Homo sapiens: one gene and its partner. The protein of the gene in region 2 interacts with the protein of the main gene of each other region in a pairwise test. Each region holds a gene or a part of one and is shown on either strand. Other genes may lie near its edges.

Region 1 (7,777 bases), on a different chromosome or scaffold from region 2:
CTTTACAGCTGGGACAGGCTACCCTGTAGCCTCAACAGCACTTAGGGACCCATGGGAAATAATATATGCAAGAAGCTGAAAATAAGGAAGCAACAGGAATGAGCAGAGGTACTGTCTGTCTAGACTTGAAATGCATTCATTCTACCAGGCACCTCCAGTATAAATTGGTTACAATTTTATTTCCAGCCAATTACTATTCAAATCTAATTAACAACCAAAATGGTAAAATATACTTACTGTCATGAAATACTGTCAGAACCGTGTTGTCAGTGGTGCTGAAGAACACCTATCTAAAAAGGTGTCTAATCTTTGTGATTTCAACCTAAAAGATAAACATCTATTAGGACCTAACATCTATCAATAGTAAAAATACATCAAATGTATCACTTATAGGCTTTTTTTCTCATAAAATTAAAGAGGGCTTGTATAATTTTGACTACTATTCTTAATCAATGGAGTACATGGTATAAAATAGTATAAAAAGGCACCCAATAAATGTTTGTTGACTTGAAAGATTTATTTTGGAGAACTTAAAAACAAGTTAATTCCATGGGGAAAGGAGAAAATGGATTTTCCAACATAACCCTGAATTTAGCCATATTCATCATAAACATTCATTACAATACACCAAAAAGGGACCAAATTATATAATATGCAAGAGACCAAAAATTATACATCTAAATTACTTAAAACATTAACACTCAAGATGCAAACACACCCCTTATCATCTTAATTTTTTGGTGATGGTTTTCTTAAATGTTTCAGAGTAACATTTAGACATTCTATAGCTCAAGAGGAGGAAAAAATTATCTGAGAATATAATGCTTTTCAATTAAGAATCTCAGATTATACTGTAATGAAGATACATTCTGCACTGAGAAGATATCAAAAAAGCAACACAATCAAGACCCTTATTTATAATTTTGAAGCACCACCATTTTTGACTAAAATTGCATCGAAATAGCACTTCAGTCTCACTGTAAGGCATAAATAGCTGAACAAATTAGTACCAATTGCTGTGTTACAAGTTTCATTTCTCATTTGCTCCATTCTTTCTCAAAGGAAACAATTAAATGGGGGAGGGGTAGGATGCCAAAACAAAAACACATCCTTTCAGTGTTAATTTTAAAGGGAGAAGATATACTGATACGCATCCAAGCATGAAATCTAGCAAATAGCAGAAAAAATTGTAGCCACTGAATTGAAAGTTTTTAATGCCACTAAAAAGGTCCAGGTAGCAAAAACTGCTTGACGTTTGCTATAATATTAAAAGTAATTTATAATTTCTTTTCAAATATTAATAGTATCCTCTAACCCCAAAACTGCTCAGAAAAGTCCTTCCTTGTAACGAGAAATGTTATTTTTTAAAGAGTGTCTTTGAAAAAATAAGCCCTCAGAACACTTAAAACATGGGAGCTATATTTATGTATTTTGCTTGGAATGGGAGAGGGGGGTGTGGGCAGGGAGTCATACCACACCACACTCACTCACCCAAATAGTTGATTCAGTATATATTTAGACTCAGTACATTAAAGAAAAACACTGTCACCTCATATGGTGTATATTTTCTTAAGGGCAGGTTGATATATGTAAAAGCTCAAGGGAATGCATACATCTGTTTAATGTTTTAAGAAATGCAAATTTGTATCCAAGAAAAGCAGTAGTCCCTTCCTCCACCCTCCATTCTTTGGCATCAACAACCAGAGTTTTGCATCAATATACAGTAATCCTTAAATTAAGATACAAGAGCAATGCAGGGAAGGAATAATTTGCCTTTTAAGGAATTTTGGTTAAACTTTCAATACTTTACAAATAAACCCCCCACTGATTAGTGCCACTGATATTGATCCGTTTGCTTTCATCACTTTATGTTGCTGATTAGTTTCCATACTAAGAGAGATGAAACCACCCCAGTGATTTGTAGCACGAACCACGCAACTATGGGGTCCATGCGGGTTAGTGGGATGCCATTTTTTTAAAGGTCGCAGGCTACCTAACCTTGTTTAAATTATCCTGTTAGAGTGCTTTGGGCGAGATTACGATTTGTGGGTGCTCTGTAATTCTTTGTTCTCTAAGACTACCGTTCTTTAAGGCCCTGCATATCCTCCCGCCTCCCACCACTAATGATTAAAACCTTAGTCCAATCCGAAGGGCTTCCTTCCCACCTTCGGGGCAAGTACAGGGACCGCAAACCGCCAGATGGCTGCATTCTTTACGCGCAAACCAGGCTGCGGGGAAGCTAAAGCCATGCCTTCCTCCCCACGCAGGTGCCTGGGTGGCCCCGGCCCCACGGCCTGGTCCCGGCGACCTGTCAGCCCTGCGAGTGCCAGGAGGCCGCCCCCAGAGCGCATCCCCTGACTCGCCCGGCCGCCCCGGCCCCGCGCCCAACGCCTGCCTCCCACCCGCCGCGCGGCCCCCGGGATGTGCGGGCAGACAAAGCGCCGGGCCCCGCCACAGCCCCGCGGGCGGGAGGAGGGCGCCCCCGGGGACTCGCGCCGCCGCCGGGGCTACGGGGCCAGGGCCCGGGCCGCGTCTCCCGCCCCTCGGCCGGCTCCCCGCACAAAATGGAGCCGGCCCGGGACGCCGTCGAGAGCGGGGCCCCGACGCAGCCCCGCGGCCCCTCCTCGGCCCCGGGCCCGGAGCTCAACGGCGGCGAGGGTGAGGTGGCCTGGCCCGCGTCCCGCCGCTCCTCAGCCCGGCGCACAAAGAGCCGCGCCGCGGCCCCGCGCCCGCTCCCCGGCCCGGCCCGCTGCGGGAGCGGCCTCGCAGGCGCGGGGCCCGGCCTCGGCCCGCGCGGGAGGGCGGGAGGCTAGTGCCCCCGGCCGCGGCGGCGTTGGCGGCGGGGACGGCGCCGGGAGGAGACGGACATTTCATTCGAGCTAAAGTGGAGTCGGTTTAGGAGCGATCATTGGCCGAAGCGAGACACAAACCTCCAATGCAGCCCTGGTTGGCTCCCGTCTCCAATCGGCTGTTTGGTTGGACAGAAAATGGCTGCGAAGGAACCAGTCCCAGCGCGGAGCTCCGCTTCCAGGACTCGGCCTCCCCTCCCTCCGCCGCGGGCCGCTTCCCTCGGCGCGACACCCTCCCTCCGCGCCGCCCGCGCGCCCGCCCGCCGCGGCCCCGCCCCGCCCCGCCCCGCCCCCGGCCCCGCCCCGCCCCCGGCCCAGTCCCGCGTTCCTGTGAGGCCTCCGCGCCGCTCCGGATGCCGCTCCTCTAGGCGCGAGGTCTTCCAGGGCCCTGCCCGGGCGCGCCGTTCGGGTCTAGGCGGGCCTCCTTCCCGGTGCTGACCCGGGCCTGTGCGAAGCGGGATCTCTCGGGCGTCCCTCTCTTTGTCACCCCTTCCCCCGCCACGTGGAGGTGCCTCAGCCGCCTGAGCTCAGCCTGCCTGCGCCTGGATTTTTAAGAAGGGGAAACCAAGGACAGAAGCCGCCCCCTAGGACGACGCGCCCGAGCCACCGGGAGGGTCTGAACGGCGGGGGCCTCCTGGAGCGCCTTCAGCGCCTCGTGTTTTCTTTCCTTGGGTCCCTGTTAGCGTCGCCGCATGCACAGCGCTCCCTGTCATTTGGTCCCTGAGCTTGGGTGTTTTTCACATTTCATCTAAAGATGCAGACCCCTGCTAAGTCTAGCCAGCCTTCACCCTGAATCTTGAACTTAAGATGCTGCATTTTCCACCCACCCCCACCCCTCTAGTAGCTGCAGATTGACAAGCGGCTTTTCCCAACCAGATGACATTTTGGCTGCAAGAATCCGTGGCCCGTTCTTGCCTCTGTGCAGCCAAGCTCCTTCGCTGTCTTTCTCAAACTGCAGTCCTGAGTTCAGCTTCGCTTAGCAGTGACCATCCCAGAGGTGGGTAATCCAACACTGGATCCACTCACTGCAACCGGAGCTGGGGATGGCATGCCCTCTGCTTCCACTAACCGAGTGGCCTGCACCACATTAAACTCTCCAGCTTTGATTATGTAAAAATACAGAGATCTTTTATTTATAGAGTTCCTACTGTTTCTCAGAGTATTTAAACATTTCTGCGGCAAGTATGGAAGAAAAGACAAATGAAAGCCCCAAATTGTGACAAGAGGAGTAAGTAGCAATGCCACTGTCATCAGACAACCTGACTTGAATTCCAACTCCCCTTCTTACAGGCTTGTGATCTTGGCCAAATGTCTGCTTCTCAGGGTTGTTTGGGATAATGTATACATAGAAAGCCCTTTAAAAAAAAAAAGTTATCCCAGCACTTTGGGAGGCCGAAGCAGGCCGATCACCTGAGGTCAGGAGTTCGAGACCAGCCTGACCAACATGGCGAAACCCCGTCTCTACTAAAAATACAAAAATTAGCCGGGCGTGGTGGTGGGCGCCTGTAATCCCAACTACTCAGGAGGCTGAGGCAGGAGAATCGCTTGAACCCGGGAGGCAGAGGTTGCAGTGAGCCGAGATCACACCATTGCACTCCAGCCTAGGCGACAGAGCAAGACTCCATCTCAAAAAAAAAAAAAAAAAAAGTTATCCTAAGATCTTTATATAGCATGAATTTCTTCAATCTCCATCAAACATTTAAAAGGTGTTATTTGCTTAGAAAAAAAAAAGGAAAAATTGGCCTGAGTTTAATTTCTCCCTTTCTCTATGCTTACCCATAAAGTGGAGATTAAGGAGTGAAATGATGTGTTCAAAGGTTCAAAGGCAGGAAATATAAAGTAATAGAATTGGGAGAAGGGGCTGGGCATGGTGGCTCACGCCTGTAATCCCAGCACTTTGGGAAGCCAAGGCAGGCCGATCACCTGAGGTCAGGAATTCGAGACCAGCCTGACCAACATGGAGAAACCCCGTCTGTACTAAAAAATACAAAATTAGCCGGGCGTGGTGGCGCATGCCTGTAATCCCAGCTACTCGAGAGGCTGAGACAGGAGAATCACTTGAACCCAGGAGGCGGAGGTTGCGGTGAGCTGAGATCGCGCCATTGCACTCCAGCCTGGGCGACAAGAATGAAACTCTGTCTCAAAAAAGGAAAAAAAAAAAAAAAAAAGAATTGGGAGAAAGATGACTAATCCTTCTCCCAATTCTGGATGGTGAACCAAAAGATGCGAAGATGACTACTTTTCTGAGTTAATAGTTTATCATTTCAGTACTGTGGATCTAAACTATGTGCTTAATTCAAATTCCACTAAAAGGTAATATCAGCTCCTACATTCTGCAGGCATTGTACTAGGAGCCCAAGGGCTACAAAGGTGAATGAATCACTCTCCTTACCCTGAGGAGCCAGAACTCTAGGAGAAATGGAACCCGGTCCACATCCCCTCTGCAGTTGGATCCTAGGTCATCCTGCCTTAACAACCAACCTGTGTTCTCTGTTTCTTCTGTATCTATTTCAGGAAGCCCCCAATAAATGTTAACCACTTTTCTGATGACTTGGTGAAAGAGGAAGGCCAAGATCATAATTTAGTCTTGGAAAAAACACTGCAGCTAACCTAGTCTTTGCATTCAAAGTCAGAGACAGGTAATTGAGTGTCTTTATTTCGAGTCTGTACACCACAGCTGCCAGTTAGTTCATATCGCCATTTCTCTAGGCGTCATAATTAAGCAAACAATGAAACAGAATCCCTGGCCCCATGAAGACTTCACAGTTTTTACTTCATCACTTCAATGAGGTCTCGTAAAATTCCCATGAGGACAGGGTCTAGTAGAATATTGTCTCCACTTCCACCTTCCTGATTCTTCTCTTGCTCCACTCTTCTCAATCCATTCTATGCACTGAGGCCTAGAAGGATCTGGCTTCAGCTTCCCTCTCCCACCCGGCTTGTGGCTCTTCCTCAACCCTGACCTCACCACCTTCTAGACCCACTGGCCTATGCATTGCTCCTCACACACGCACCAGCCTTAAGATCCTCACTGGCTTCTTTTCATCACTGAGGTCTTGCCCCTTCAATGAGGGACTTCCCTGATCCCTTCTTCTTAAGTAGCCCCGCCCAGTTACTCTCTATCCTGTCATCCAGCTATATTATTCTATGTAAAAGTAAATATGATATTTGCTCCAATACCCTTAGCCTAACTGGATTATCTTGTTTATTTGTTGGCTATAAGTACATATATCTAAAATGGAAACAGGCCAGGCTCAGTGGCTTATGCCTGTAATCCAAGCATTTTGGGAGGCTGAGGAGGGTGGACTGCTTGAGCTCAGGAGTTTGAGACCCGCCTGGCCAACATGGTGAAACCCTGTCTCTACAAAAAGTACAAAAATTATCTGGGCATGGTGCTGCATGCTGGTAGTCCCAGCTACTCAGGAGGCTGAGATGGGAGAATCACTTGAACCCGGGAAGTGGACGCTGCAGTGAGCTGAGATTGCATCACTGCACTCCAGCCTGAGTGACAGAGCAAGACTCTGTCTCAAAAAAAAAAAAGGGAGAAAACACTTCTCATTGCCCATACTACTACCACCATGGTTCAAGTCACATCTCCTGAAAGGATTTGGATGTTCTAGCCAAATCTCATGTTGAAATGTAATCCCCGGTGTTGGAGGTGTGGCCTGGTGGGAGATAATTGGATCATGGGGGTAGCTTTCTCATGAATGGTTGAGCATCATCCCCTGGATGCTGTCCTCGAGATACTGAGTGAGTTCTCTTGGGATGTGGTGGTTTAAAAGTGTGTAGCACCTCCCCCTCTCCCTCTTGCTCCTGATTTTGCCTTGTGAAGTTCCTGCTCCCATTCTGCCTTCCACCATGATTGGAAGCTTCCTGAGGCCTCCCCAGAAGCAGATGCCAGCCTTATGGTTCCTATACAGCCTGGAGAACCGTGAGCCAATTAAACCTCTTTTTGTATAAATTACATAGTCTCAGGTATTTCTTTACAGGAATGCAACAACAACCTAATACATCTCTCATCAGGGTGACTGCAGTGACTTGTCTCCCCTCTTCCACTCTGGTACACAGCAGCCAAGATTTCAGATCCTCTGAAAATATAAGTCAAATCCTGTCACTCCACTGCTCAAAAATCCCCTATTAACTCCTCATTTCTCTCAAAGTAAAAGACAAAGACTTTCCAGTGGCCTTGTAAGACAGAGTGGCAAGTTCCTTCATTCCAAATTGAGCAACAAAAAGATACTGATTGTTCTTTGGTCATAGTGACAAGAAACAACCAGAATCTGTTTTAATCAATCAATAACAATCTCCTGATCAGTGACTTGCTTCTGAAAATTAGCCAATCAGCAACAGCCACACTCTAGTAATCCTTCTTCCACATCTAAAGTTCAACTCATCTCTAAACAGTCCAGCTTCTAAGAGTTCCCCAACCTCCGAACCCCATGCTTCCCAAAACACTGTATAAGATTCACAGATTCCTTTGTTCAGAGACACTGTCTTACAAGTACTGCTGTCCTCTGGTTAGCAAGAAATATGTTCAGCACTTAATTGTTGCAGACGTGAATGGTGGCCTCTTCACTGGGCAACAACCTATGGGATCTTTGATCTATTCCCTTTCCGCTCCCCCTCTACCCTCATCTCCTCCTACCTTTTCCTTTGCTAATTGCACTCCTTGCAGTCCTTATTTCTGCCAGGAATGCTCCTGCCTCAGGGGCTCTGCACTGGCTGTTCCATCTGCCTAGTACATTCTCCCTCAGATAGCCACATAGCTCACTCCCTCACCTCCTTCCATGTCTTAATGGGGCCAGCCCTGATCACTTATCTAAAAATTGCAATTCCAACTCCCTACCCCCACTCAGCTATAACCCTCTAACATATTATATAGTTTCCTTATTTGTTATGTTTATGATTTATTGTCTGTCTCTTCCCAC
Region 2 (6,494 bases):
AAGCTCTCCCAACTCCCTTCTGTCCGCAGCTGTGGTGCACTCAGCAGACCCAGGGCCTCCAGCCTCCCCGGATGACCCCTCTCTCCCCTCGCTGCCACCTCACCTGCCACTGACGCGGCCCCAGCTCCCAGTTTCTTTTTTTTTTTTTTTTGACATGGAGTCTCACTCTGCTGCCCAGGTTGGAGTGCAGTGGCGTGATCTCAGCTCACTGCCACCTCCACCTCCCAGGTTCAAGCGATTCTCCTGCCTCAGCCTCCCTAGTAGCTGGGATTACAGGCATGCACCACCACACCCAGCTAATTTTTGTATTTTTAGTAGAGACGGGGTTTCACCATGTTGGCCAGGCTGGTCTTGAACTCTTGACCTCAGGTGATCTGCCCGCCTCAGCCTCCCAAAGTGTTGGGATTACAGGCGTGAGCCACCGCACCCGGCCCCAGCTCCCAGTTTCATGTGGGGAAGGCAGGTGGGTGGATGGGATGGCAACCATGACGTCCTGCGCAGAGCCTGGAACAGACACTGAGATTCCCTTTTATTTTTTTTTTTAATAAATTTAAGAACAGCTCTACCTTCTCTCCTCCCCCCAGAGCAACTAAAACCAACTAAAAGGGGCTATGGTCTGGGGGGCAGAAGGCGCTAGGAGTCGTAATCTTCTTCGTCCTCTTCATCAGGTGCTGAGGGGCCCGGGGGCGCTGGGGGCAAAGGCAGAGTAGAGGCGAAGGGCAGGAAGGGTGTCGGGGGGCTGCAGGGCAGAAGGCAGGAGAGAGTCAGGCCTGAGCCCCACCGTGCCCTCCACAGGGGCAGCTGCCAAGACCCTCCCTCCCCCATCTGACCCTCCCACCACCACCCTCCAGATCCATGCGGCCAAGGCCCAGGGCAGCTCACGCAGGGCAGGCCCAGGCCCCACCCACGGGCCCTGGCAGGGTGGAGCAGGATCTTTCGGGAGAACAGTCTCCTGCCTTCAAGCCCTCCTCAGTTATTCTCCTTCCACCCCACAAATCTGCCACAATCAACAAGACCAAGGGGCCAGGGAGAACAAGAGGGGTAAGTTGGCTCTGGGGAGTCTGCCAGCACCCTCCCATGCCTCTGGGCTGCTCACCTCTGAAAGTGGGCAGAGGGGTGGCTGGCCTGGGGTGGGGGTTGTGATGTCTCCTCTTCCCCATCAGTATCTGTGTCCTCAGATTCATCCTGTGAGCACCGCAGAGGTCAGAGTTGACAAGAAAAGACACGAACCCATCACTGGGAGTGGCAGGGACAGCAGTAGACCCTCATAGCCCCAATTTACAAATAAACCAGTGAGCAAACAGGTTGCAGAAAAGGATGAGAGCTGGCCTCCTGCCAGTTCAGCCTGGGGCGAGGCTGCCTGTCCCATCACCAAGGGCAGGGCGAAGGGCTGGGGCCTCACTCACCTCCTGCTCCGAGTCTGTCCCGGACAGCTTCTTGTCCTTGCTTTTCGTTCCCATCCCACCGTTCTTCCGGCCGCCGCTGCCTGGCTTCCGGCCCCTTTGGGAAGGTACAGTCCATCTGCCCGGAGTGCTCCCTACTCCTTGGCCACCCCCAAGCCCTGTGGCCTTGGCCTTCCCCACTGTATGCCAGGCCCTGGCCCCACCTGCGGGCGCCCTTGTCCCCATCCATGTGGTTGTCTTCCCCGTCCCCCTGCATGTCGGGAACAGATGCCACCAGGTCCTTCAAGAAGTCAAACTGCTGCTCCAGCTCGATGCACTGCTTCCTGGAAGAGGTGAGGAGGGGCTGGCACTCAAGAGGGGCCCAGACACCCAAACCCGCAGTGGGTGGCAGCAAGGGGCCCCAGATGTCAGGCTGGAGCCCGGGCCGATCTCCGCTCCCGGGCCTGCCCTGCTTTACTCAGGTGGCTCCCTCTGCCTGGAAGCCCAGCCTCTCCTCTGCCAGTCTGTGGCCTTGCTGGTGTCCCGGCTGCCGCCCACCTCCCTCGCCACCCAGGCTCTGCCTTCCTCAGTGTGTGAACTCCCCGCGCCAAACCCGCCGGCCCCTCCCGGCTCCTCGCCGCTCACAGGTGGGATGTGGTCATGGTCTTCGCGTTCCGCGACTGGGTCACCTGGCAGGCCTTCTTCAACAGCGACTCTAGGAAGAGCTCGAGCGCCCGGGCTGAGGAGCGTCAAGGAGAACTCCGGGGCAGGAGAGGGCGACCCGCTGCCTCCCTCCCCCACGCCCCTCGACCCGGTCCGCCCCCGGCAGGATACAGATGATGACAGGCACCGCCGCCGCCACCTTCCCAATCTCTTCGTCCGTCTGCATGATCTTCTTGATCCGCGCCTGCGGGTGGGGGAGCAGAGTTCAGACCCCGTCGCCACCGTCCCCTAAGGGGGTGCTGGGGGAGGAAGGGGCATCCCCGGAGAAAGGGGGCGGGGGACACGGACGCGGGGAGGGCATGGAGGGGGCGGGGCGTCCAGGCCCCCGAACACCGCGGCGCGCCCGCCTGCCCAGCGGGAACTGGGCCCAAGCCACCCGGGAGCCGGGCCCACTCCTGCCGGGCTCTGCCACGTGCTCACCGGCGGGAACCGCGCGTTGTACTTCTTCTTCTTGCTCGGCATCTCGGGGCCTCTCTCGCCGCGTCGGGTCCAGCGCCGCCGCCCGCAGCCTCCCGGCTCCCGGGCCTGCTCGCCGCCCGCCCGTCGCGGTTCCCCTGGGTCCTGGTGCCGCCCGCTCCGCCCCCGCCGTTTCCCGCGGAGTCCTAGCGCCGCCGGTTAAGACGCCGCTCGCAGGGCCCTAGTGCCCTCCTCTTGAAGCCTCCTGGCCGGTGCGCGTCCCTCCCCAGTCTGGACCGCCGCTCCCGCCCGCCCCCAAGGCCAGAAGAGCGAACGTTGGCCCCGCCCCCCGCGGCCCGCCCCTCCCGGGGTTCCCGCGATGGCCCCGCCCCCGAGTCAGCACCTCCCCGTCGGCCCCGCCCCTTCCCCTGCCGGCCCCGCCCCACAGCGCGGCCGCTGCGGCCGCTGAGGCCCGCGGCTCCGCCCTGTGGCTGCGCCTGTCTATAAAGTTGTTGTTGAGGTGGCGCGGCGCTAAGATGGCGGCGGCGGCGGCGGCGGCCGTGGCGGGGGTGGGGCGCGGTGGCGGTGGCGCGGAGCCACGGCAGGAGCGGAGCCGGGCCCGGGGCTGGGCCGGCGTCGAACGCAGCGAAGGCCGGAGGTGACTGCGGGCGGCGGGAGGGGCAGGGCAGGGCCGGGGCGGGAGCACAGCTCGGGCCCGTGGGCGTTAATGGCGGCGGGCGCGGCACGGCCGGAGCCTGGCTCTCCTGCAGGCTCTAACAAGCCCTGGTTCGAGTCTGGGAACCGCCCCATTGGCCTCGGAACGGCCTGTAACCTCTCTGGACTTCAGCGTCCTCGTCTGTAAGTGGGCCCGATAACGCCTGCCTGGGAGGCCTGGCCTTACAGAGCCGGCCTCGGGAGCTGCGCGAACGTGCGCTTCTTTGCGTTCCTCTATTAAATGCCAGCGCACCGGATACCTGCCAGGAAAAGGGGGCCTTGGCAGGGCCGGGAGGTGTAGCTGGGGCTGGTTGCTCCCACGCCTGGATTCACCCTTCGGCCCTGCCACGCACTGCAGGTGTGACCTTGGGCAAGTCCTTTTTCTCAGCCTCAGTTTCCTTTTCTGTAAGTCAAGGAGAATAGTAATAACTGCAGCAACCCTTCTGGAGCGCTGACTCCTCAGGCATCTAATTTTCATAGCAGATCTACGGGACAGGAACAGTTGTTATCCCATTGTAAAGATGAGGCAACTGAGGCGCATCGACAGTAACTCTTACTCAAGGCCACAGTTTAATCCAGTGCCTGGCATCTGTAGTTATTGTCTCAGACCCTGCCCTGACTCGGTTCCCTCACAGCAGGATGGAACCAGGTGAGGAGCTGGAAGAGGAGGGCTCTCCAGGTGGCCGTGAGGATGGCTTCACCGCCGAGCACCTGGCTGCAGAGGCCATGGCAGCTGACATGGACCCCTGGCTAGTGTTTGATGCCCGCACAACGCCTGCCACTGAGCTGGATGCCTGGCTGGCCAAGTACCCACCATCCCAAGTTACCCGCTATGGGGACCCCGGTTCACCCAACTCAGAGCCTGTGGGCTGGATTGCAGTGTATGGGCAGGGCTACAGCCCCAACTCCGGGGACGTGCAGGGCCTGCAGGCAGCCTGGGAAGCTCTGCAGACCAGTGGGCGGCCCATCACACCGGGTACCCTGCGCCAGCTCGCCATCACCCACCACGTGCTCTCGGGCAAGTGGCTTATGCATCTGGCACCGGGCTTCAAGCTGGACCACGCCTGGGCTGGCATTGCCCGGGCCGTGGTTGAAGGCCAGCTTCAGGTGGCCAAGGTGAGCCCACGTGCCAAGGAGGGTGGGCGCCAGGTCATCTGTGTTTACACGGACGACTTCACGGACCGCTTGGGTGTACTGGAGGCGGATTCAGCCATCCGTGCAGCGGGCATTAAGTGCCTGCTCACCTACAAGCCTGATGTCTACACCTACCTGGGCATCTACCGGGCCAATCGCTGGCACCTCTGCCCCACTCTCTATGAGAGCCGTTTCCAGCTTGGGGGTAGTGCCCGTGGCTCCCGAGTGCTTGACCGTGCCAACAACGTGGAACTGACCTAGGGGGGCCAAATTGGGGAGACTGCCCACTCCCCCCTCCATGCTGGGGTTGGATCCTCCTGTCTTCCTCCTTGTCCTATGAAGGCCACACCCCCCAGCTCTGGGGACTCCTAGGTCACTTGGGAACTACCTGCATCTTCAGTCCCCTTGAACTTCTGCCCTCTGTTCAGGGCTGACACAAGCCCCACAGGCTGGGGGGCTCCGGTTCCCTGAGGGATGAGCCTTCAGCCTCCCTTTGTAATGCTGCTCCTCTCCACTGCCCAGCACCATGAGTTGGGTGCAGACACCTAGAAGGAGAGACTTCTTGGAACGCTCATCCCCCGCTATACCTCCCCTTCCTCCTGCATCTCCCCTTCTTTCCTTCCCCCTCAGGAGAGAGAAAACTTAGTGCTTCCAGCCCTTCTTGGAGCCTTCATGGTCCAGGGGTAGGGGCCCCACTGGCCTGAGCATGCCATTTTGAGGGGAGGGTAGTTGTGCCTACTTATCCCCTGGCAGAGGGGATGCCAGGACCATGGACATGAGGCTTGCCCATCCCTGCCAACTTACACAGCCTGTACCACTGTCCCCCCTTCCTTGGCTACTTTGACATGTGCCTGCTCCTGGCATTTCAATAAAACCCGGCTTGGGTCTGTGTCTTGAGTGTTTTTTAAAATACTGTCTTGGTGGTTACCTGCTTTCGTTGCTAGGGAGGGGCAGGGCCAGGAGAGACTACCCCCTTGACCCGGCCAGGCCCCCATAGCTGCCCCTAGCAATAAGTTGTGCCTCACTGCTGAGGTTAGGCACTGTCTCTAAGAACCTCTGCAAAACCAGCCCCACTTCCCCTCCATCCGTAATCAGTTTCTCAGAGATTTCCCATAATTCCAGGGGTTGACCCCTCCAGGAACGTCTAAGGGGCCACTGCTAGCCCTCAGGGTGCATTTGTGCATATTAGAGAAAGGTACCAAGTCCAAGCAGTCCTAGGCCGGGGTACGCGGTTTGGGGAGCAGAGGATGGGATGGGCTGGATTTCAGCACCTTAGGCTAGACATCCTTGTGCAGTGAACAACCTGCACAACCCTAGGTAGTCTCTCTGGAAGCCCTGCCATTCATACTCTCCTCTCCTACCACCCTGACCATCATAGGGCCCACTAGACAGTTTGCAAAGCGCTTTCATATGCATTAAATTTAATTCTCCCAACCCCTTTGGGAGATGTTGGCCCCATTCTGTGGTCAAGGAAATTGAAGCCAAGAGGGGAAAGGAGTTTTCTCAGTGTCATGCGATGAGGTGGGCAGAGCTAGGACTTGCATCCCAGTCCCTTCCTCGGGCAATGAGGTCCCTGAGCCCACTGAGGAAAACAGGGAGCTTTTCATAACTCACAAAGCATGTTCACTTACGTGATCTCACTGGGCCGCCCCACTCTGCTGGGACTTGCTGTAGCCTTGGAGCCTGGCTCCTGCACCCCGCCACCTCTCCAGCCCCGTGCCTGGCCCTGGCCTTGATTGGGGGCCAGGGTGTCTGGCAGGGAGCCCCTTGGGACACAGCTCTCGTGCCGTGCCGGGACTGACTCAGCCTCCAGCAGTCTCACCGAATCGGAATTTAGAGCAGGGGAGCGGAGATGCCACCGGGCTGACTGGGTGGAAGTGGCTGAGTCATGAGATGCTGGCTCAGTGCTCTCTCCAGCTTCCTCCCCACCCTGAGCTTCCCCAGGGCTGAGTCCCCCTCTGCCCAGCCTTGGGAAGTCCCCAGAGCTGGGTGGTCTCCGAGTTGGAGCCTGGTGCTCTGCCTCCCTCGGGCTGCCAGGGCCTTGCACTCCACCAAAGTGGGCCAAGGTACCTCATGGGTCCCACAGAGATGCCCAAGTGGGGTCAACAGCACTGGCTTCTTCCATAGCTGAGTGTGTCACACACA

What was found.
Region 1: the proteins of DRAP1 (region 2) and NFYB interact in binary tests that used the Homo sapiens proteins (3 or more experiments, as listed by UniProt).

The regions. Positions count from the first base shown.
Region 1 is NC_000012.12:104,135,211-104,142,987, forward strand, and holds the start of NFYB (nuclear transcription factor Y subunit beta), read right to left. Parts: upstream 3,001-7,777; 5' UTR 2,931-3,000; exon of another isoform or gene 1,999-2,930; intron 323-1,998; 5' UTR 244-322; coding exon 238-243; exon of another isoform or gene 234-237; intron 1-233. UniProt on the Homo sapiens protein: Component of the sequence-specific heterotrimeric transcription factor (NF-Y) which specifically recognizes a 5'-CCAAT-3' box motif found in the promoters of its target genes.
Region 2 is NC_000011.10:65,915,575-65,922,068, reverse strand, and holds DRAP1 (dr1-associated corepressor), read right to left. Parts: upstream 2,644-6,494; 5' UTR 2,568-2,643; coding exon 2,526-2,567; intron 2,290-2,525; coding exon 2,217-2,289; intron 2,122-2,216; coding exon 2,028-2,121; intron 1,727-2,027; coding exon 1,607-1,726; intron 1,501-1,606; coding exon 1,407-1,500; intron 1,186-1,406; coding exon 1,097-1,185; intron 740-1,096; coding exon 634-739; 3' UTR 506-633; downstream 1-505. Other genes in the region: UPF0696 protein C11orf68, read left to right, coding at 3,038-3,159, 3,851-4,610. UniProt on the Homo sapiens protein: The association of the DR1/DRAP1 heterodimer with TBP results in a functional repression of both activated and basal transcription of class II genes.